Regions from separate parts of the Homo sapiens genome. Here all the other regions are linked to region 3. The links come from fine-mapping of genetic effects on gene expression. A gene starts in region 3. Each other region holds a variant in brackets. All regions are shown on one strand. Distances are from middle to middle.

Evidence for each region. PIP is the estimated chance that this variant, and not a neighbour inherited with it, causes the effect.
Region 1: its variant is fine-mapped to the expression of WDR45B in whole blood (TOPMed, PIP above 0.99). The same link has a PIP of 0.9 or more in neutrophils.
Region 2: its variant is fine-mapped to the expression of WDR45B in anterior cingulate cortex (GTEx, PIP 0.96).
Region 4: its variant is fine-mapped to the expression of WDR45B in blood mononuclear cells (TOPMed, PIP above 0.99).

Annotation. Positions count from the first base shown.
Region 1 is chr17:82,625,382-82,630,381 of GRCh38, forward strand. WDR45B (WD repeat domain 45B) reads right to left here. Exons shown (of 10, transcript NM_019613.4): 4 at 1,823-1,910; 5 at 8-102. Among named protein-coding and RNA genes, the nearest start is that of WDR45B, 21 kb to the right of the region's middle. The variant C/T (reference allele first, on the strand shown) is at 2,616.
Region 2 is chr17:83,076,154-83,081,275 of GRCh38, forward strand. It overlaps METRNL (meteorin like, glial cell differentiation regulator), which reads left to right and starts at 3,456. Exons shown (of 4, transcript NM_001004431.3): 1 at 3,456-3,832. The coding sequence starts at 3,663. The variant C/A (reference allele first, on the strand shown) is at 2,525.
Region 3 is chr17:82,645,749-82,650,957 of GRCh38, forward strand. It overlaps WDR45B (WD repeat domain 45B), which reads right to left and starts at 2,696. Exons shown (of 10, transcript NM_019613.4): 1 at 2,526-2,696. The coding sequence starts at 2,592. RefSeq lists silencers at 2,149-2,198, 2,209-2,258, 2,859-2,928 and enhancers at 2,341-2,840, 3,219-3,288.
Region 4 is chr17:82,610,563-82,615,788 of GRCh38, forward strand. It overlaps WDR45B (WD repeat domain 45B), which reads right to left. Exons shown (of 10, transcript NM_019613.4): 10 at 4,000-5,226. Among named protein-coding and RNA genes, the nearest start is that of FOXK2-AS1, 25 kb to the left of the region's middle. The variant C/G (reference allele first, on the strand shown) is at 2,997.

The DNA.
Region 1 (5,000 bases), 20 kb before region 3:
CTCTCACCTTTGGGGTTATAGCAGGTTTCGAAGACGTGCAACTGATGGGGATTGTGTGTGAATGTGAACACCTTAATCATGGAGTCCAAAACCACCACAATTCTGGAAAGAAAAACATGATCAGAGTTGCTTTCCTCAAGAGTCAAACCCAAACATTTTATGCTCCTGTTCTTATCATACTGAAACTGAGAAACACTGAAAATACCACACAGAAAAGGAGTGTTCCTGAAGAAAAAGCTCTGGAGGCAGGTAGCCAGCGCCAGGCCTGGAGCTCGGCGAGTGCACGTGGGCTGGCTCTGCTGAGGGAGTGCTTCTCGCCTGGGTGAAGGTCAGCCTAAGAGACGTCTCTGAGGTTCAGAGAGACATCATCAAACACTCCATCTAGGTTCAGAACCGAGCAAAACAGACAGAAGTGATATTTTTATGCTACTGTGTCTGGAAAAAATAAGAAAAGTCTGAAAGTAGAATATCCTCGATCTGGCTCAAGCGTTTGCATTATTATTATTATTACTTTTTTTTTATAGATGGAGTCTCACTCTGTCGCTCAGGCTGGAGTGCAGTGGCACAACCTCAGCTCACTGCAACCTCCACCTCCAGTTCAAGCGATTCTCCTGCCTCAGCCTCCTGAGTAGGTGGGATTACAGGCGTGCACCACCATGCCCAGCTAATTTTTGTATTTTTAGTAGAGATGGGGTTTCACTAGGTTGGCCAGGCTGGTCTCTAACTCCTGACCTTGTGATCCGCCTGCCTCAGCCTCCCAAAGTGCTGGGATTACAGGCATGAGCCACGGTGCCCGGCCACATTTGCATTACTAAGGGCCTTTAAATATTGACGTTATTAAAATGACAAACCCACACAAAAATGCAGGAAAGTTGGCCGGGCGCAGTGGCTCACACCTGTAATCCCAGCACTTTGGGAGGCTGAGGCGGGTGGATCATGAGGTCAAGGGATCAAGACCATCCTGGCCAACATGGTGAAACCCTGTCTCTACTAAAGATACAAAATCAGCCAGGCTTGGTGGTGTGCGCCTGTAGTCCCAGCTACTCCGGAGGCTGAGGCAGGAATTGCTTGAACCCGGGAGGCAGAGGTTACAGTGAACTGAGATTGTGCCACTGCACTCCAGTCTGGCAACAGAGCAAGACTCTATCTCCCAAAAAAAAAAAAAAAAAAAAAAAAAGGGCAGGGAGGTGAAATGACCTCTGTTTACATCCAACTTGCTCGGCTGCTGTCCTCCCACAGCCGACAGAGATGGAAATCTTAGAGTAAAATATGCAAATCATATTAAATAAAAACCCAAATGAACGAACTCTGCGCTATCTTGCTCAACGTACTAGGACAAACTTCCATATTCCCCCTAAACGCCCCTGAGACCATGGCTGACAGAACCACCTGCTACTTTCAACACAGAAAATTCAATTTTCCTTTACCTTCAAACCGAAAACCTTTATTGAGAGGCAGCATTTGGCAAAGCAGGGGCTAAAAGCCCAGGGTAATTCAAGGCTCAAAACTCATGTCCTCAGCTCTGCACATGTCGGAATGGGACATAACTCACCACGGTGAGACCCACTGGCTGGTCCACTGTGGCGCACGTCATCCACGCCACCACCTACTTACCTCCAGCGGAGCCCTGGAAACAAACACAATTCGCTGCCTTTCTTGCAGCAATATAAATAATCCTTATATCCTTATGGTCATAAAAACCAGGACCAACATTTTAATACATCATTTCCTAAACATTTTTCTGCCAAAAATAGAAAAGTATTTCAGCCATCTTTTGAGAAAGTGAAATACCACTTTAAAAAATTACTGACACCAAACCCACCTATCTCGCCGCAGCTTGACTGCCTTGACTTCTGTAGAAAATTCTATTTCAATAACAGTCTTCTTCTTCAGGTCATCCCAGATCATTACTGAAATATCAGAAAGAAAAGATGAATGCAGTCATCAGCAGGCCATGGCGCTGGGATGCAGCGATGCCAGCTTGGCGCCTAAGGTGTTTTCTCTTCCCACTGGCACAGCTGCGCCCACCCTCAGGCCTCAGACACACACCCGCACCTGGGAGGCCTTGGGGTGTAACTCAAACCGTGAGCTGTGCCAGGGATCCGCCCTCGGGCACCTTCCCCACTCAAAGCGTCTCCCCTTCTTGGTAGCTGGCTGCCCACTTGCTCCCTCCCCGCCCATTCCTCTCTCAGTGTGCACAGCCCGGTCCTGTTCTCAGGTGACCCACTCACTGGCCTCACACACAGGCACGCTAAGCGCATTCATCTCTCTCTGCCAACCATTGCTCCCTCCCCGTCCGTTCCTCTCTCAGTGCGCACAGCCCGGTCCCGGTCTCAGGCGACCCACTGGCCTCGCACACAGGCGCGCTGAGCGCGTTCATCTCTCTCTGCCAACCCTTGCCCTTGCCTGGTTACGTTCCTCTCCCTGACCTTCCTTGATTCCACCCGACTGAGCCCATAGGCAAGCCTGACCATAGGTACTGATGTTAAAAGTGCTGCAAATAAACCTGCATCAGGAAGGGAGGTTTCAGTTTTAAAGTGAAATCAGAGGGACACAAATCAGGGCCAACAAGTTCCTCACTCCACTCAAGGTCCTGGGTTGTTCTTCCTCTTTTT[C/T]TGTTTTTCTTTTTGAGACAGGGTCTCATTCTCTCGCCCAGGCTGGAGTGCGGTGGCGCAATCTTGGCTCACTACAGCCTTGACCTCCCAGGCTCAAGAGATTCTCCCACGTCAGCTTCCCAAATGGCTGGGACTACAGGCATGCACTACCATGCCCAGCTAAGTTTTGTATTTTTGGTAGAGATGGGGTTTTACCATGTTGTCCAGGCTGGTCTCGAACTTCTGGGCTGAAGTGATCTGCCCACCTCAACTTCCCAAAGTGCTAGGACTGCACGTGTGAGCCACTGCACCCAGCCCCTGCTCCTTTTTAAGTTCAAAATTTCTTCTGTCTTGTTTGCCTGCTAACATTGCAACATTCTATTAGCATAAATTAGCAGTTTGTGTTCTAAGGGCTAATGTACCGACAAGCTTTAGGGATGAGAATGCCAACCAGCACCGTGCTTTTGAAGAACCACAGGAGGGATGGGTGCGGTGGCTCACGCCTGTAATCCCAGCACTTTGGGAGGCTGGGGTGTGAGATCGCTTGAGGCCAAGAGTTCAAGACCAGCCTGGGCAACATAGTGAGACTCCCATTTCTGAAAAAAAAAGTTATTAAAAATTAGTCACAGCTACTCAGGTAGAGTCCAGGAGTCTGAGGCTGCAGTGAGCTATGATCACCCCACTGCACTCCAAGCTGGGCAACAGAGGGAGACCCTGTCTCAAAAAAACACACAAAAAACACAGCTGGGTGTGATGGCTCACACCTGTAATCCCAGCGCTTTGGGAGGCAGAGGCAGGCGGATCAATGGAGCTCAGGAGTTTGAGACCAGCGTGGGCAACATGTGGAAACGCCGTCTCTACTAAAAACACAAAAGGTAGCCGGGTGTGGTGGGTGCTCCGGTACTCCCAGCTACTCGGGAGGCTGAGGCGGAAGGATCACCTGAGCCTGGGGAGGTAGAAGCTGCAGTGAGCCAGGACTGCGCAACTGCATTCCAGCCTGGGCAACACAGTGAGACCCTGTCTCAAAACTAAATAAATAAAAATCAAGTTTACTAGTAAAAAAAAGTACCTTTAAACGCTACAAAAAGTACATTTACTCAAAAACCTGCTGAATACTGCTTTCTTCTAAGTCTGTGAAGTTTCTAAGGCTTTTTCACCTCTTAGAAACTTTATAATGAGAATGAGACCTGAGATTATCTCATACAAATGGCTCCCTTGTTAGCACCTGGGGTCCCCCAGCAGTGCCAGAGGTAGGGCAAGGGAGGCGGCCCTCTAGGCCTCCTGACTTCCATCTATAAGCTTCCTTTCCTCCTTAATGGTCAATGAAGTTCTCCATGACAAGACACAGACCAATTCACCAGCAGGATTTCTGCCCATCCCCAATTAGCCAGGGCAAAGTCATTCTCCTGCAAATCCTGCCCTGCTCTCTCTGTGGAACCTCCGCTGTCCCTTCTGGGTGGGCTCCTCCAGAGGACTCACAAGCCACAGGCCTCTGCCCCTCTGGGCTATGCTAGCAGCCACTCTCAACTCTGCTTTAAAGCTGGCACAGACAAACCTTGTGAGATTACAGAACCGCTCAAAGGCCAAGATCTCAAGCCCTGTCTTCCACTGTTTTTCCTACCGATAATCTCTTCCCATTTCATTTCTCTGTTCCTAATTCCAAAACAAAAATAAATGTATCAGGCAGGGCCAGTCCTCACCCGAGTGTGGTCTCTCTTCCGCACATTCACGTTCACGCAGTTCACGGGGCTCTGCTGAGAACTGTGAGCTGGGCCCCAAAGCTTGTCACGAGTCATCTGGAACCTTCTGCCTTTCCACACAATCCTTTTGTGCCTGATCTGACCTGGGCTATTCTATTCCTAAGTACGTGATATCACCCAGATCCTAGTTCACCCACTCACTTCCCATTTGGCATGCGGCGCCCCCAGAGCCCCATCCTGGTCTTGATTCTGAACTGCCTCCCTCACTGAGCCTCTCCTTCCCTCCTCACCTCCTCCCACCCTACCCACCCACCACTGGGCTCCCACTCAGTCATCCTCTGAGACCACCGGTGGCCTTCAATGTCACCAGAACCAGATGGCTTTTCTCAGGCCTCCTCCCGCCTGGCACTGGGCTCAGACGAGGATGCTTGCTCCACTTTTCCTGCCTCTCCCCATAAACGGGGGCTTCCCACACCTGCCCCATCCTCTGGTGTCTCTTCACTCACCTCATGCACTGCATCTAGACCAGAACTTTCCCAAAACACAGATCTGACGGCATCTCCTTCCTGGCCACACGTTACCTGGCATTCAAGCCTCCCCCAGATCTGCCTCCCACCTCCCCCACCCAGCCTACCTCCCGCCTCCCACCTCTTCCCTGTGTTCTGCCCTCCATTCCTGGATCTTTCGCCTTGAGCCCTCTTTCCTC
Region 2 (5,122 bases), 430 kb after region 3:
ACAGACTCCAACCCCACCATGTCTGTGACCCAGAGCTGGGGGCTGACGTCCGAGCCAGGTCCGTCCACCACCCCACAGGGCCTGTAGGCACCCGGCATAGGAAAGGCCGAGAAAGGGGTCCAGTCCCACAGCCCTCCACCCCAGCAAATTCCCAGGTGCTGGGTCCCTGCAATGCACGCGATAAAAACTCCCGGGTCAAATACACAGAGGTGACCCTGCCGAGGTCACTCGATCCTAACAGTGGGTCGTGGTCCTCGGACATGGGAGGCCACGTCCTGCTTTCTGAGGCCTCAGACCCTGGTGAGGCACAGAAGGACTGTCCAGGGTGCACCCAGAATTTTTTTCACGGACGTCTGCCCAGGAGGCTTCTGAGAGCTGTTTCTCGAGGGAATGGATAGATGAGGAAAGAGAGAGGGTTGATGTAGACCTACGGTTGGGCCACAGGCCCCCCTGGCCCAGGTCCCTTAGCTGCCATCTCCCAGGATGCAGAAGCATCACTGCAGGGCCCGCCGGTAGAGGGAATGGGCAGGCGTGATCCTGGTGGGTTCTGGAGCTCTCCGATTCCACGGCTCAGCCTCAACGTTCCGACTCAGGTAGGAAGTATCAGAGCTTCACGCAAAGCTGCGAAGACCAGCTCCTTCCCACGAGTGGGTGGGTGGGATGATGCTGTGGCCCCTTCCTGGGTCTAACCCCGTGACATGCTCACTGGGAAGCAGTCCCTTCCCAGACATCCAGGGACAAACACACCCAAGGCCCTTTCCTTGCAGACCCTCCCAGAGGACCAGGGGGAGGGCCACACACCATGACCAGCTGGGATCCTTTTGGTTCATAATCGGCCTCTCGGGGTCTGGTGGTACAAGGGGCAGTGTACCAGTGGCTGGGAACACCCCCAGACAGCCTTGACCACCTCAGCCTGCATCCTCTAGGAGCCTGATACCTCCTGACACCAGGAACCCCGTCTACAGGGGACGTCTCACCTGTAGGTGGCCTCGCTGGGCCAGGACAGGGGTCAGCAGAGGTGCCCAGGAGCACCCAATGTCTCTGGGGCATGAACCTCCTCAAGGGAACAGCTTGGGGAACCACAGCCCCAGGGTGGAAAGGGCCAGGCTCCTTTCCCAAGACAGATTAGCTTCTTCCGAGAATACTGGCCAGCAAGCATTCTTACTCTAGTTTTGTTTTGTTTTAATTAGCAGACTTAATGTTTTAGGTTTACAGAAACACCAAGCAGATGGTAGAGGTCCCCCACACACCCTCTCCCTGACCCAGTTTCTCTTATGATTACCTTCTCTCATTAGGGTGTAGGCGTGTGACAGTCAAAGAACCAATATTGATCCGTTATTATTACAAATGTCTCAAGCCTCCATCAGGATTCACTCTTGTGCTGTATTTTCTACGGGTTTTGAAAAGTACACGTGGGTCCCATACTCACCATCGTACGATCCCAGTCTTAGGACAGCCCGCTGGGCACAGGAGGCTGGGCATCCTGCCAGGTGGCAGATCTCTGCCCCAGCCTAGGCTGGAACCAGCTGCCTGCTGACCAGAGGCGGCCTCTCCCCTTCGGTCTAGCAGCCACCAGGGGCTCTGAGACCCTGAGCAGGTCACGGCAGGTCCTGAGTTCCCCATGTCCGCATCTATAACTCAAGAGATCCCAGCACTGCCCTGCCTCTTCCGTGGTGTGATGATCTGGACCCTGATAGGCCATGTGGCCCTTCAAGGGTGGACCGGGCCTGGGGGGGCTGCTATCTTATGCTTGGTGGGCATGGAAAGCAGTTGCTGCGCACAGGTGTGAAGCCGCAGGTCCCTTTCCACAGCAGGTCCCTTTCCACAGCAGGTCCCTTTCCACTGGGCACCCTGGTACCTGCAGTGATGGGGGTGGGGGGAGGTGCACTCCTAGAGCAGACGGGGGTGGGTGGGGCAGTCTCCAAGCTCCGAAATGCACCTCCACCAGACCTTGAGCCTCAGGGTGATGTCACTTGATGTGCTGGGCAAGGTCCTGGCTCCAGGCTTTCGATGGGGTGGGTGCTCTGAACAGATCCTTACAATGAAACTACCTTCAGTGGTCACTGTCATCGCCTTCCAGTTCTTCAGACCCTCACCCTTGTCCCAGCTTTCCTGGGCTGGGGGCTGGGCTCCACCTGCCTTTGCCGGTGACTTCCGTCCCTGCAGACTCACAATTTTCAAAGCCCTCTCCCCGCCTCCTCTGGTAGTCACAACCCAGTTATTCAGACTTGCACAGGTCGTTCGCAAGTCCTCCTGGAAGGTATCTTGGCTGGAAAAGGGGACAAGGCCAAGCTTCCCCACCGCTGGATGCTGCGCTCGGCTCTGGAACTGACACCAGGCGTCTCGGGCAGGGCCACTGACCCGCAGCACACAGAAGCCAGCTTTGCCATCGCAGCGGGGACCGCCGGGCGGGCCAGCTCCGCCCTCTCCTGCCTGGGGGGCCCTCGGCACCCTCTGGCTCCCCTTCTCTGGCCTGAGTCTCTAGGGCCTCCCCAGTCCGGGCGGGGGTCTCCGCTGTCCCCCC[C/A]ACTGGGTCAGGCACGTGGTGGCCGCGGTGACCACCTGGGGAAGGCGCCGACTCCGAGGAACACACTCGAGCAGGACGCTCCGCAGGTGATTCTGCCCCGCGGGCACGGGGTGGGGGCGGGATTTGGCCAAATCTGCAGAGAGTTTAGGTTGTCAAAGCTGGGGCGGGGGTTGCTACTGATACCCAGAGTGCGGGGGCCAGGGTGCTGCCAACATCCCACCATGCGCAGGACGTCCCCACCCCAAGAACCACCCGGCCCCGCGTATCCGGAGCGAGGAGTGGGCAGCGCTCGGCAGAGGCCCCGGCGCGGCGGCTGCACGTCCTCCGGGAGGAGGGAGGGAAGCCGGGCTCACCGCCGGGCCTCCCCCCCGGTCAGGAGGGAGCCGGGAACTCCCGAGGCACCAACTCTGCGGAACGCGGGGCGCCCGGATCGCCCCTGATCACCGCCCGCTGGCGAGGCGCGGGGGACCCAGAACCGGCGGGGCCGGGAGCCTCCTTTACCGCTCCGCGCCGGGGCTGCCCGCAGGATGGGGCGCAGGATGGGGCGCAGGATGCGGCCCCGGCACCGCCTCGCGGGGGTCTGCGGGGGGCGACCGCGGCTCGCGTCGGCCACTACTTGGGGGTCTCGGGTTTCCGCCCCGCCCTCGCCTTGCAACCCCTCCGGCCCCGGACTCCGCTTTCCAGGCCGGGCTCTTCCCTCCGGACCCCGCTCGCCGCCCGGCGCGGCCCCCTCCTCCTGCAGCGCCCCCCGCCCCGGCGCCCGCGCCCCCGATTCGCTGCTGACTCGGTGTCTGCGCGTCCGGCCGGGCGCCCCGGGAGGAGTTTCCGGCGCGGGGCGGGGTCGGGGGCGGGGTCGGGGGCGGGGCGGGGCGGCGGGTGGGCCCCACCCCCCAGCTGAGCCCGGCCGGGCGGACTCGGACTCGCCAACTTCAGAGGCTCGGCGGCGGCGGCGGGCGCGGAGCTCTGCGCGCGGCTCCAGCGGGCCGGGATGGGCGGGCGGCCGCGCGGAGGACGCGGGGGGCGCGCGACGTGACCACCCGGACTCGAAGCCCGCCCCGCCCCCGCCCGGCTCGCCGGCTCCGGGGTCTGCTCCGGGGGTCGCGGACGCGGGGCCGGGCGGCGGAGCCGGCGCCAGAGCATGCGGGGCGCGGCGCGGGCGGCCTGGGGGCGCGCGGGGCAGCCGTGGCCGCGACCCCCCGCCCCGGGCCCGCCCCCGCCGCCGCTCCCGCTGCTGCTCCTGCTCCTGGCCGGGCTGCTGGGCGGCGCGGGCGCGCAGTACTCCAGCGACCGGTGCAGCTGGAAGGGGAGGTGAGTGTGCGCGGCGCGACCCCGGCCCGGCCCCCTCCCCTCGCGTCCCCTCCCGTCCCGGGCCGGCCGAGCGTGCGGGGGCGCGGCCGGGGGCGGGCGCGGGGCAGGGGCTCCGGGGGCCGCTCTCCAGGCCCAGTCCGGTGCCCGCTGTCCCCCGCCCCCGGTTCTAGAACAAAAGAGCCCGCGGCGTCCCGGTTCCCGGCCCGGAGGACGCCCGGGGGAGGCGCGCCTGCAGCGCGGCCGGGTGGGTCCCGGCTCCGCGCGTGTCCGAGCCTCGGGGGCCGCCGGTCCCGCGACCCCATCCCGGGGGCAGGCGGGGGTCGGTCCTCGGGCCCTTCCTGGCAGGCTCCGGGAGTTGCGCGCCCCGAGGCCGCCCCGGGCCAGAGCGGGAAGGGACGGCCGCGGGAGGGAGCGGCGGTTTCGGGGATCGGGCGCGGACCGCAGCGGGGGCCACTTCCGTCTCGGGGAGCCGCGGGCGGGCACCTGTGAGCCGGGCCGAGTGTGGCTCCGGCCGGGCCCCCCGCCCCTGCCCCGTGAAGGTCAGGCCGCCCTTGGCCGCGGCGCGCGCTGCGCTGGGCGACCCCCCCCCCCCCCACCCGCGGTGGCGGCCGAGGACTTTTTTTTTTTTTTTTTTTTTTTGACTCAAGCGTGGCCGCCGAGAGCGGCGCCGACCGCGACTGCCCCTCGGGAGCCGCCGCCGCTCCCACGCGAAGCCCAGGGCGCCGAGGGCACCGCGGCCGAACCCGCCCTGCGCGAGCCTCGCAGTCGCCAGTTCCGGGGTTCGCAGATGCGCGGGGACCCGAGTGACGCGCGCCTCCCGGAGAGCCGTGGCCGGGCTGGCCCGGGCCTGGGTCCCGCTTCCCCTCGGCGCGGCCCCCGCCCCCGCCCCCGCCCCCGCCGCGGGCCGAGTCACGCGGTGATGTCGAGCGAAGCTGTTTTCCGAGAAGGTCGGGGCAGAGCCGGTGCGGGGCGGGTGGTGTCCGCGGGGCGGGCGCAGGTCTCCCCGCAGCCGCAGCCTCCGTTCCGGGTCCCCGCGAAGCCACAGTCGCCCCCCAGCGCCCCCGGCGGAGCCTCCCCGGGGGAAGGGGCGTGGCGCTGGGGGGCAGAGTCGCCCCGAGGGCCGTGGGCGGTGCCCGGCTGTCCCGGGAGCGGCCGCCTCCCTTCTCGGCCGAGCGGGGCCGCGGGCGGATGGAGGTCTGGGGGGGGTCGGCCGGGAACGCCGGCGCCGGGAGCCTCCGAGGCCGACGGCTCTTCTGGGGCCGCCCCTGCCCCCGCGGAGTGATTCAGCCC
Region 3 (5,209 bases):
CTGGAACGTACCCAAATGCCCAACCATGGTAGACTGGATATATGAATTGTTGTATGTCTGCACAAAAGAACATTGTACATCAAGAATGATCTGGCCGGGCACGGTGGCTCACACCTGTAATCCCAGCATTTTGGGCAGCCGAGGTGGGTGGATCACAGGGTCAGGAGATCAAGACCATCCTGGCTAACACGGTGAAACCCCATCTCTATTCAAAATACAAAAATTAGCCGGGAGCGGTGGCGGGCACCTGTAATCCCAACTACTCGGGAGCCTGAGGCAGGAGAATCGCTTGAACCCAGGAGGCAGAGGTTGCAGTGAGCTGAGATCACGCCACAGCACTCCAGCCTGGGCAAGAGCAAGATCCGTCTCGGAAAAAGAAAAAAAAAAAGATCTACAACTATACTCAACAATACGGAAAAAAAAAATCACAAACATGATGTTGAGTAAGAAACCTAGAAACAGCCTGGCGCCGTGGCTCACGCCTGTAACCCCAGCACTTTGAGAGGCCGAGGTGGGCGGATCACCTGAGGTCAGGAGTTCAAGACCAGACTCAACACGGAGAAACCCAGTCTCTACTAAAAATACAAAATTAGCCAGGCATGGTGGTGCATGCCTGTAATCTCAGCTACTCGGGAGGCTGAGACAGGAGAATTGCTTGAACCTGAGAGGCGGAGTTTGCAGTGAGCCTAGAACGCGCCATTGCACTCCAGCCTGGGCAACAAGAGCGAAAACTCCGTCTCAAAAAAAAAAAAAAAAAAAAAAAACCCAAAACAAAAAAACAGCTAGAAACAAAAATAAGTACAAAAATAAAGTACAGAAGTAGGCAAAACTAATCTATGATGTCACAAGTCAGGTAGGGAGCATTTATTGGAATCAAGCGTGGCCAGGTATATTCAATTTCTTAATTGTTAGTGACAGGTGTGTAGTTTGGAAAATTCATCACCTGAACACTTATGATATATCCACCCTTCTACAGGTATAGCACACTTCACTAAAAAGAAGGCATTACAAACACCAGATGGTTGGAAACCACCCTCTGAGAAGGCTAGGCATCTCCCTTACCATCTCAGCAAAACTTTCTTCCGGAGAAACCCCAGCACACAACCCTGGGGAAGCTGGCAGCGCCCAGGAAGCCTGACTGGTCCCAGGGCATCAGGCATCAAAATCACTGAGAGGGAGTTCTTTCAAATATGTGTAATCCGGCCGGGCGCAGTGGCTCACGCCTGTAATCCCAGCACTTTGGGAGGCCGAGGCGGGTGGATCACCTGAGGTCAGATTGAGACCAGCCTGGCCAACATGGTGAAACCCCGTCTCTACTAAAAATACAAAAAGTAGCCGGGCGTGGAGGCAGGCGCCTGTAATCCCAGCTACTCAGGAGCCTGAGGCAGGAGAATGGCGTGAACCCGGGAGGAGGAGGTTGCAGTGAGTCGAGATCGCACCAGGCTGGGCGACAGAATGAGACTCCGTCTCAAAATGAAATAAATAAATAAATAAAATTGTCTTCACATATACGGGATCATACAGCACCTGCCTGGATTCTCTTCAAAAACAAAACTTCCAAAGCCAACATGTAAAGCCTCGCAGAAGCCTGTCTCGGAATAACGGACATTCCTTTTCCTCCCCATCAGGACCTTTGGGAAGCGCGCCCTTCAAATGGGAGGTGAGGAGGCAACCATCCGAATCCAGGTCCCGCCCGCCTCCCGCGGGAATCCGACCGCGCCGCCCCGGCCGCATCCCCCGCAGCTCCGAAGCACCTGCGGGGAAGGAGGTCACCTTCCCTGGGCGCTTTAAATCATCCAGTGCTTACACCTGGATTCCGACATGGGAAAAGAAGTAAGATTTCCCTCAAAGGCCTCCCTTAAGTCCTTTGACTCCACCAAACACGAAGAAAAATCCCGGGGAGTGGGGGTGGGGAGAGTGACATTTTCCGATGGAAACCGACGGGAAAGGTGAGACCTGCACCCCACCCGCGCCACTCGCCACCAGAGGCGTCGGAGACGCCGGCTCCGCGGCTCCAGTAAACCCAAGCGAAGTCAGCTCAGCCACGGGCTACCTACTAAAGACCCTGAAAGGAACAGGGGGCAAAACGGGGTTCTGGGCAGGGCGTCAATCACGCTGTGGGGAAAATCCCGATAACCGTGGAGCCCGCAGGGAGCCAGGGAACCCGAGTGGGCGTGGCGCGCGGGGAGGGGCGTCCGCGCAGGAGGCTGGGGTTCTGTGCCGTCTCCCACCGACCTCGACCTCGGCCCGGGACGGCCGGCTGGGAGCGGTCACAACCCGGGGGGTGGGGGAGCGCGAAAGGCCAGGAAGGTGGGAGCCGGTTCGGGCCTGGTCCGGACCCCGGCTCGGGCTGGGAGCAGCGGCGAGGGCCGGGGCCGGGGGCTTCGGAGGGGAGCTCGGGCGGGGCCGGGGTCCCGGGTGGAAGGCCTGGCCGGAAAGGGGCGCCCAGGAGAGGCCTGAGAGCCGGGGACCCCGGGCTGCGGGAAGGCCCGGCCGGGCAAGGCGACAGGGCCGCGCCTCCTCACCGTGGTCCTGGTTGAAGCCGGCGTAGAGCAGCCCGTTGCCGTGAGGGTTACACGGCAGGAGGTTCATGGCGCCGCCGTGCTGGGTCGCCGCTCCTCAGCGCTGCATGCCTCTCGCTGGGGACGGCGGCCTGGTCCCTTCGGGCCGGCGCTGAGGCCGCCGCGGCCGGAAGTGCCGGACGTACGTGCGTGCGTGCTGGATGTGCGTGTGTGCTGGACGTGCGTGCGTGCGTGCTGGACGTCCGTGCGCGCGCCCGCGCCCCACCAGGGAGCCTATGGAGCGCCGAGCGCATCTAACCGAAGCGAGGCGAGACGAGGCGAGGCAGGGCGGGGAGGGGCGGGGCGGGGCGAGGCGAGGCGAGGCGAGGAAAGGCGGGGAGAGGCAGGGCGGGCGGGGCGGGATGAGGCGGGGAGAGGCAGGGCGGGCGGGGCGGGATGAGGCGGGGAGAGGCGGAGCGAGGCGGGGCGGGGAGGAGGGGGCGGGGCGGGGCGGGGCGAGGCGAGGAAAGGCGGGGAGAGGCAGGGCGGGCGGGGCGGGGCGGAGGCGGGGAGGGGCGGAGCGAGGCGGGGCGGGGAGGAGGGGGAGGGGCGGGGCGGGGAGGGGCCAGGCGGGAGCGCAGAGCACGTTCGCGGGAGGGTCTGGCCTTGTCATGCGCGGGGTCGCCGCGGGAAGGAGGATGGCCCGTTGAGGGCTTGGCACGGATACCTGACGGTCGGAGGAAGGGGGGAGAGCCGGTAAAGGAGGCTGACCCAAAACTGAGGCCCGGTGCATCATCCCTCATGAGAGGCAAGCCCAGAAGCGCCACAATACTAGGGTCCCCCTTCAGGAGACAGAGACCCCCAGGACACAGAGGGCCCCCAAGTCACTCAGCCCCCCCAGGACACGCAGCTCCTGCAGGACGCAGAGGGTGCCCAAGACACACAGTCCCCAGGACAGAGACCCCCCAGGACACAGAGGACCCCCAAGACACGCAGTCTCCAGGACACAGAGGTCCCCCCAGGACACACAGTGCCCCCAGGACACAGAGGTCCCCCAGGACACAGCACTCCCAGGACACACAGCCCCCCCGGGACACAGAAACCCCCCCAGGACACAGCCCCCCTAAGACACACAGCCTCCCCCAGTACACAGAGTCCTTTCCAGGGCACATATTCCCCCAGAAGACACAGAGGTCCCCCTAAGACACACAGCCCCCCCAGGACACACAGACCGCCAGGTCACAGAGACCTTCCCAGGACACAGGGACCTTCCCAGGACACATAGCCCCCCAGAGGACACACAGCCCCCCCACGACACAGCCCATAGAGGACACAACCCCTTAGTACCCCACCTAAAGGACAGGTGGCCCTCACACAGCACAGCCCCCGCAGGACTCCGGGACCCTCAGGTCACATTGCTCACAGGGCACAGTTCTCAACTCTTAGGGTCAGGCTGCTGGGGGCATCCTGGTCACAGAGCTTTGTCCCTGGGCTTGGCTCATGCAGTGGATGGCTGTGGAGGCCTGAGTGCTGGCCCTCGTGTCTCTTGCCCAGGGAGTCCTCTCCACTCCCCCTCCTCACTTTCCTGTCCCCTCCTAGGCTCTCCCTGTTCCCTGCAGCACACCTGATCTCCTAGGAGGTCCTGACACTGTCCCCTCGCAGCCACCTGCCTCCACCCCGTCTGTCATCCTCATCCCACCCTCGCCACTTGCCTGAGCTGGTGCTGACCTCTTAGCCATGGGGAGGAAGGAGCTGGACTGTAAGCTGAGATCACTGGCCCACTCGGGCCAGGCGGTCTCCGCATCGTGGGCATTGAACACCTCGATTCCCATACGAGAGGGGCTCCTCCCTGAGAGCGACCAGAAGCCTTCCGATGGCGGAGCGAGTTGGGCCGCCCCGGCTGTGACTAGGGCTCGGGGGCCCAGGTCCAAATCACAGAGCTGGGGCGAGACCTAAGTGCGGTCCAGGGGCTCAGCACCCTCTTCCCTGAAGGGCACTGGGTTCTCCTCTGTGCACACGTACCGGTACCTGCTGTGAGAAGTGTCACGTGGGGGAAGGAGAGAGGCGTGGGTAAGGGACATTTCCCTTCATTTCTCTGCTTGCCACCCTTGGGGCCTCCTTCAGTTCACATTTTACTCAGTCTCCCGGTGGCTGTACAGCCGGGGGCGGGGGCATGTGTGGACATCCACACACAGCGCTGGTTGTATCCTAACCAGGAAACTCAAAGCAGCCTTGCCCACCACAGTGCGTTGAATGGTGACCCTCTAAAGATGTGTCCTGGGGGGCTGAGGAGGGAGGATGGCTTGAGCCCAGGAGATTGAGGCTGAGGCTGCACTGAACTGAGATTGTGCCACTACACTCCAGCCTGGGCAACACAGCAAGACTCTGTCGCAAAAAAAAAAAAAAAAAAAGATAGGTCCACCCAGAACCTGAGAATAGGGGCTTCTTTAGGTAAAGAATCATTGCAGAAGTAATTAAGGATCTCGAGATAAGATCATCCTGGATTTGGGGTGGGCCTTAAAGCTGGTGACCGGCACCCTTGGAGGAGACAGGAATGGAGGAGATACAGGGGACAGCAGCCAGTGGGACTGGAGTGCTCAGCCCTAAGTCAGCAAGTGCAGGAATCGTGGGGTCACCAGGAGCCGGGAGAGGCATGAACGGTTCTTCCCCAGAGCCTCCCAGCCTGGGAAGGAACACAGGCTGTTGTC
Region 4 (5,226 bases), 35 kb before region 3:
CTCCTGACCTCGGGTCATCCGCCCACCTCGGCTTCCCAAAGTGCTGGCATTACAGGCGTGAGCCACCATGCCCAGCTCCGCCCAGGAGTTTGAGACGAAACTGGGCAACAACACAGGGTGACCCCCACCTCTAAAACAAAATCATAAAATTAAGAATTAGCTAGGTAGGCTGAGTGCAGTAGCCCACACCTGTAATCCCAGCACTTTGGGAGGCAGAGGCAGGCGGATCACCTGAGGTCAGGAGTTTGGGACCAGCCTGGCCAACATGGTGAAACCCCATCTCTTCTAAAAATACAAAAAATTAGCCGGGCGTGGTGGTGCACACCTGTAATCCCAGCTACTTGAGAGGTGGAGGCAGGAGAATTTCTTGAACCCGGGAGGTGGAAGTTGCAGTGAGCCGAGGTTGAGCCACTGCACTCCAGCCTGGGAGACAAAGCGAAACTCCGTTTCAAAAACAAACAAACAAAACATAAAGAAATTAGCCAGGCATGGTGGTGCATGCCTATGGTCCTAGCTATTTGGGAAACTGGAGCAGAAGGATCACTTGAGCCCAGGAGGGCGAGGCTGCAGTGAGCCTTGATTGCACCCCGGCACTCCAGCCTGGGTGACAGAGCCAAAAAAAAAAAGAAAAAAAGAAGCACGGCTGGGCACGGTGGCTCACACCTGTAATCCCAATACTTTGGGAGGCTGAGGTGGGAGGACTGCTTCAGGCCAGGTGTTCAAGACCAGCCTGGAGAACACAGACACCGTCTCTACAAAACAATAACAAAAATTAGCCGGGCGTGGTGGTGCACGCCTGTAGTCCCGGCTACTCAGGAGGCTGAGGTGGGAGGATCACGTGAATCCAGGAGACAGAGGTTGCAGTGAGCTGAGATTGCATCACCACACTCCAGCCTGGAGTGAGACCCTGTCTCAAAAAAAAAAAGGATAGGCAGCTGTCGTATATGCTGATAATGGTAAAAATAATGTGAGACATAAGTTCAAGTCCCTTGTGCAAATACTGAAACTGAGGTAGAAAAATGCTGATTTTCTGGAGTTACACTCTGCTATCAAGGTCAGGAGGACACCCTTTTCCACAGTATCTGGCCAGATCCTTGCCTGTTTTTTCCACATACCCGAGAGAGATTAGGAGATAATTAGCCCTCAGCTCGCATGCCCCAGAAGCGTCGTCAGACTCACCATCTGAAACATCTTACACAGATGACAGGCTTCTGGCTGGCAGCCAGCATGGACAACTCAAGATGGGGCCGCAGGTGTCTGTGGGAGGCTCAGAGCAAATGTCGGGGGATTCACGGCCTCTACAGACGGTGGCGTCTCTCTTGAACAGAGCTACAAAAGAAATGACATTTCACTAGATGCCACCTCAGTCTCAAGTCTACATTTGCTTTTGTTAAAACCCATTGTATGTCTACATTTTGGTGGATGTTGCGTAAGACAAATCATTTTAAAATTAATGCCAAAACCACAAAATCACTAACCTGATACGAAATTCCAGAATGCGGCAAGAATATTACAAGCTAAATTAGAAATAAGAATCCTCTATACATATACATCCAAAAAAAAAAAAAATCCCCAAGTATTAGTAGAATTCTTTTTTTTTTTTCCTGAGATAGAGTCTCTGTCACCCAGGCAGGCGTGCAGTGCTGCGATCTCGGCTCACTGCAGCCTCCATCTGCCCGGTTCAACTGATTCTCCTGCCTCACGCTCCCAAGTAGCTGGGACTACAGGCACGCGCCACCACGCCTGGTTAATTTTTGTATTTTTAGTAGAGACAGGGTTTCACCATGTTGGCCAGGCTGGTCTCGAGCTCCTGACCTCAGGTGATCCACCCACCTCAGGCTCCCAAAGTGCTGGGATTACAGGCGTGAGCCACCGCGCCTGGCGAATTCAGCAGTATTTAAGGATAACACACTGTGACCAAGTGGGCTTTCCCACAGGACAGCAAGGTTGGCTCAACATTCAAAAATCAACGTGATGCTCCACGTTCACGGCGTAAAAGATAGGTGTGATCATCACAACAGATGCAGAAAAGTCACTTAACAAAATTCAACAGCCATTCCTAGCGGCAGGCAGGGTCACCCCCAAGTCCCCACTCAATAAAGGAAAATCAGGAGGCATCCTCCAAGAAGACCCAGATGCTGGAATCGGCAGACAAGGACTTGAAAGCGCACAGAGCGCGTACAAATGGGCAGACACAAGTCATCAGCCACGAATTAGAAACCAACTTTAGAACTGACAAATGTATCTGAAATAAAAAAGGCGGCCAGGCGTGGTGGCTGTAATCCGAGCACTTTGGGAGGCCAAGGTGGGAAGATCGCTTGAGCCCAGGAGGTGGAGGAGAAACCCCGTCTCTACCAAAACAATTTTTTAAATAAAAATAGATGTTACGTTCAGGTGTGGGGTTGTCTGAGAGTGATCTTCTCTGGAGGTAGAAACACGGGGCAATTTTGCTTACAAATTTATATTTTTCTATTATTTTATAAGGAACTTTTTTTTCATTGTATTCTCTGATCCATCTGGAAGAGAAAAATTTTGGTACAAGTTTCAACAATGTCATCAACCAAATGCCTCTGACACAACAGAAGAGAGATGAGGACTAAGTCACGTGAAAGAGCTCTGGCATTCAGGGGCTTGGTTTGGTTGCAGAAAGAAAACACAAATATAAAACTCTTTGATCACAGAAGGCTGCAGATGGCCAGCGCCCCCGACTACAGTGGTGGGAGCGGGAGGTGGCCAGGGGTTCACACAGGCATCAACGCCAAACACAGGGTGGGTATGGGTCAGGGCTGCGTTCCACAGGGCACAAGCCGCCTGTCCCCGCAAGACATCCCAGGGCCACAGGGGAGGGAGGACAGACCAGAAACGCAGCCGGAGTCATCCATGCCCACGCACCTGTACGATCAGACAGGAAAGCTGCTGAGTAGGCACCGTCTGAGGCAGTCACTCTGGAGTCCCTTCGCACCCACGTCCGGGGCACAGGAGGTTCGTGGGGGAGG[C/G]AGCAGCCCGGCCTTGTTTCCCATACACTGCGCTTCCCATCAGTTCCACTTGAAAAGCAGCTGCGCTCCCGAGTCCGCCGGCCTAGGGACACCGTGTCCTTGCCGCTCTACAGTGATTTTTAAAAAGCACATGCCTGGGGAGGGCCGGTGCCGCCAGGGCCTCACATGAGGCACGTCCGTGCAGGCCCTCGCCACGTTCCTGGTGAACGGGCCTGTGACACAGCCCCGCCGTCCGCATCAGTTCTGAGGCTGTTCACGTGCACTGCGAGAAAACCCACCCTTCTTGCATGCATTTCCCCCAGATTCATGTTTATCAACTGGTAATTACGCTCCTACTCCCCCACCCAGAGTCAGATCTCAAGTGTTAGACAAGCCAGGGTGACGCCGGCTCACTTGAAGCTGCCACTTCAACATGCAGGGACATTGCTGCTGCCAGCCACCCTCCACCTCCACAGGCCAGCAGGAGCCTCAGACCTCCCAGAGCCACACAGGCCTCCTACAGATGCATTTCCTCCCTCCCTCCTCCAGAGGTGCCCTTGGGGCACAGGGAGAGAGGAGGGCAGGCCGCCCCGTCCCGACACAGGGAGAGAGGAGGGCAGGCCGTCCCATCCCCGACACAGGGAGAGAGGAGGGCAGGCCGCCCCGTCCCGCCACAGGGAGTGAGGAGGGCAGGCCGCCCCGTCCCGCCACAGGGAGTGAGGAGGGCAGGCCGCCCCGTCCCGCCACAGGGAGTGAGGAGGGCAGGCCGCCCCGTCCCGACACAGGGAGTGAGGAGGGCAGGCTGTCCTGTCCCGACACAGGGAATGAGGAGGGCAGGCTGTCCTGTCCCGACACAGGGAGTGAAGCTCCAGGCTCCGCACCCAGTGACCCTGGCTTCCACCTTGTCCTGTCACAGGCCGGCGCCTCTTCAGGCCCACAGGCTGTTCTGAAGCCTACACTCCAACCAGATTCTCACAGCAAGGGGAAGAGTGTTTGGCTTCATAACACACAATTCTACTTCCCATTACAGGTCCAGACTACAACAAAATTAGTCACTTTTATTTAAAAGAAACATTACAAATAAGTGTGCAAAATTAAACATCATGATTAAATACACATGAAAGGAACATGCATACTTTACAGCAACATCCACAGAGAATTAGCTGATTACATGACAGTGACAGTAAAGAACTAAAGAAACCGGCAAAACCGAGAACTCGCTGCTATGCAGGTTTTACATGTTTGCAATCTGAAATCAAAACCATAAAATAGAGTTTAACGGGAATTTAAGAAAATTAAATATATATCCCAAGTAGCTGACAATGTAGAGCCCATAACCTAGTTACCAAATGTTAAAAAAAGTTATGTGCCTCTCCTTCCCAAAATGTTAGTGTGTAGCTATTCTTACAAATGAGGGGAGGGGAGACGGTGGACCTGGGGGCTCGGAGGCCAGACCAGGGCATTTCCCTCCACACCAGCGGGAACTGCATGGACCCTCCCAGACCCTGCTCTGGCAGACGACCCCGAAGTTAAAGGATGTTTTCCCCATAACGAATGTTCAAAGTTCGTGCATCACTCTGCTGTTCCCTACACATAACCGGGAAACAGGTTTAATCCAAAATGTAACCAGGAGACCCCCCGTCCCCGCCCCGCACACGCCTGAGGTGTGACGGCTCGGCTTCTAGAGTGGCCTGGTGTCTGCCTCATTCTAATGGCCCCAACGGAGACGGGGACGCCACGCACGGGCACAGGTGACGTCACGGGCACAGATGACCACGTTGCGGGTACGGAGAAGACCACAGGCTGGGCTCACACGAGGGGAAACATTCACACTGTGTTCTCTCTACAGGGTCAGGTCATTTTTCTTCATGTTCGGGCGGGAAAAGGAATTCCTTTCTCCTTTTCTAAGGCAAGCTGCTGGTGTTGTATTCAATCTGCTTATCATGTAAGAACTTACATCTGCACACTTGTTCACTCCCCCGCTGCAGACTCAGTAAGAACGACGGAATCTGCTGCAAAAACAAACCTGAACTCGTCCACCCTCTCAGCCCAGTCCCCAGGTCCGTATGGAGCCCCCGTCAGTGTGAGGATGCGGCGGAGCCACTGAAGCTAACGTCACAGCTGAACTCATGGGAACAGCCAGTGGCCGCCAGTCGAGCTGGTCACAGCCACTGAGTTACCTACGGTGCCTTGATGATGATTCTCTCTTTAATACTGGAAATGGGAGTCCTTAGGAAAGCAGACAACCACG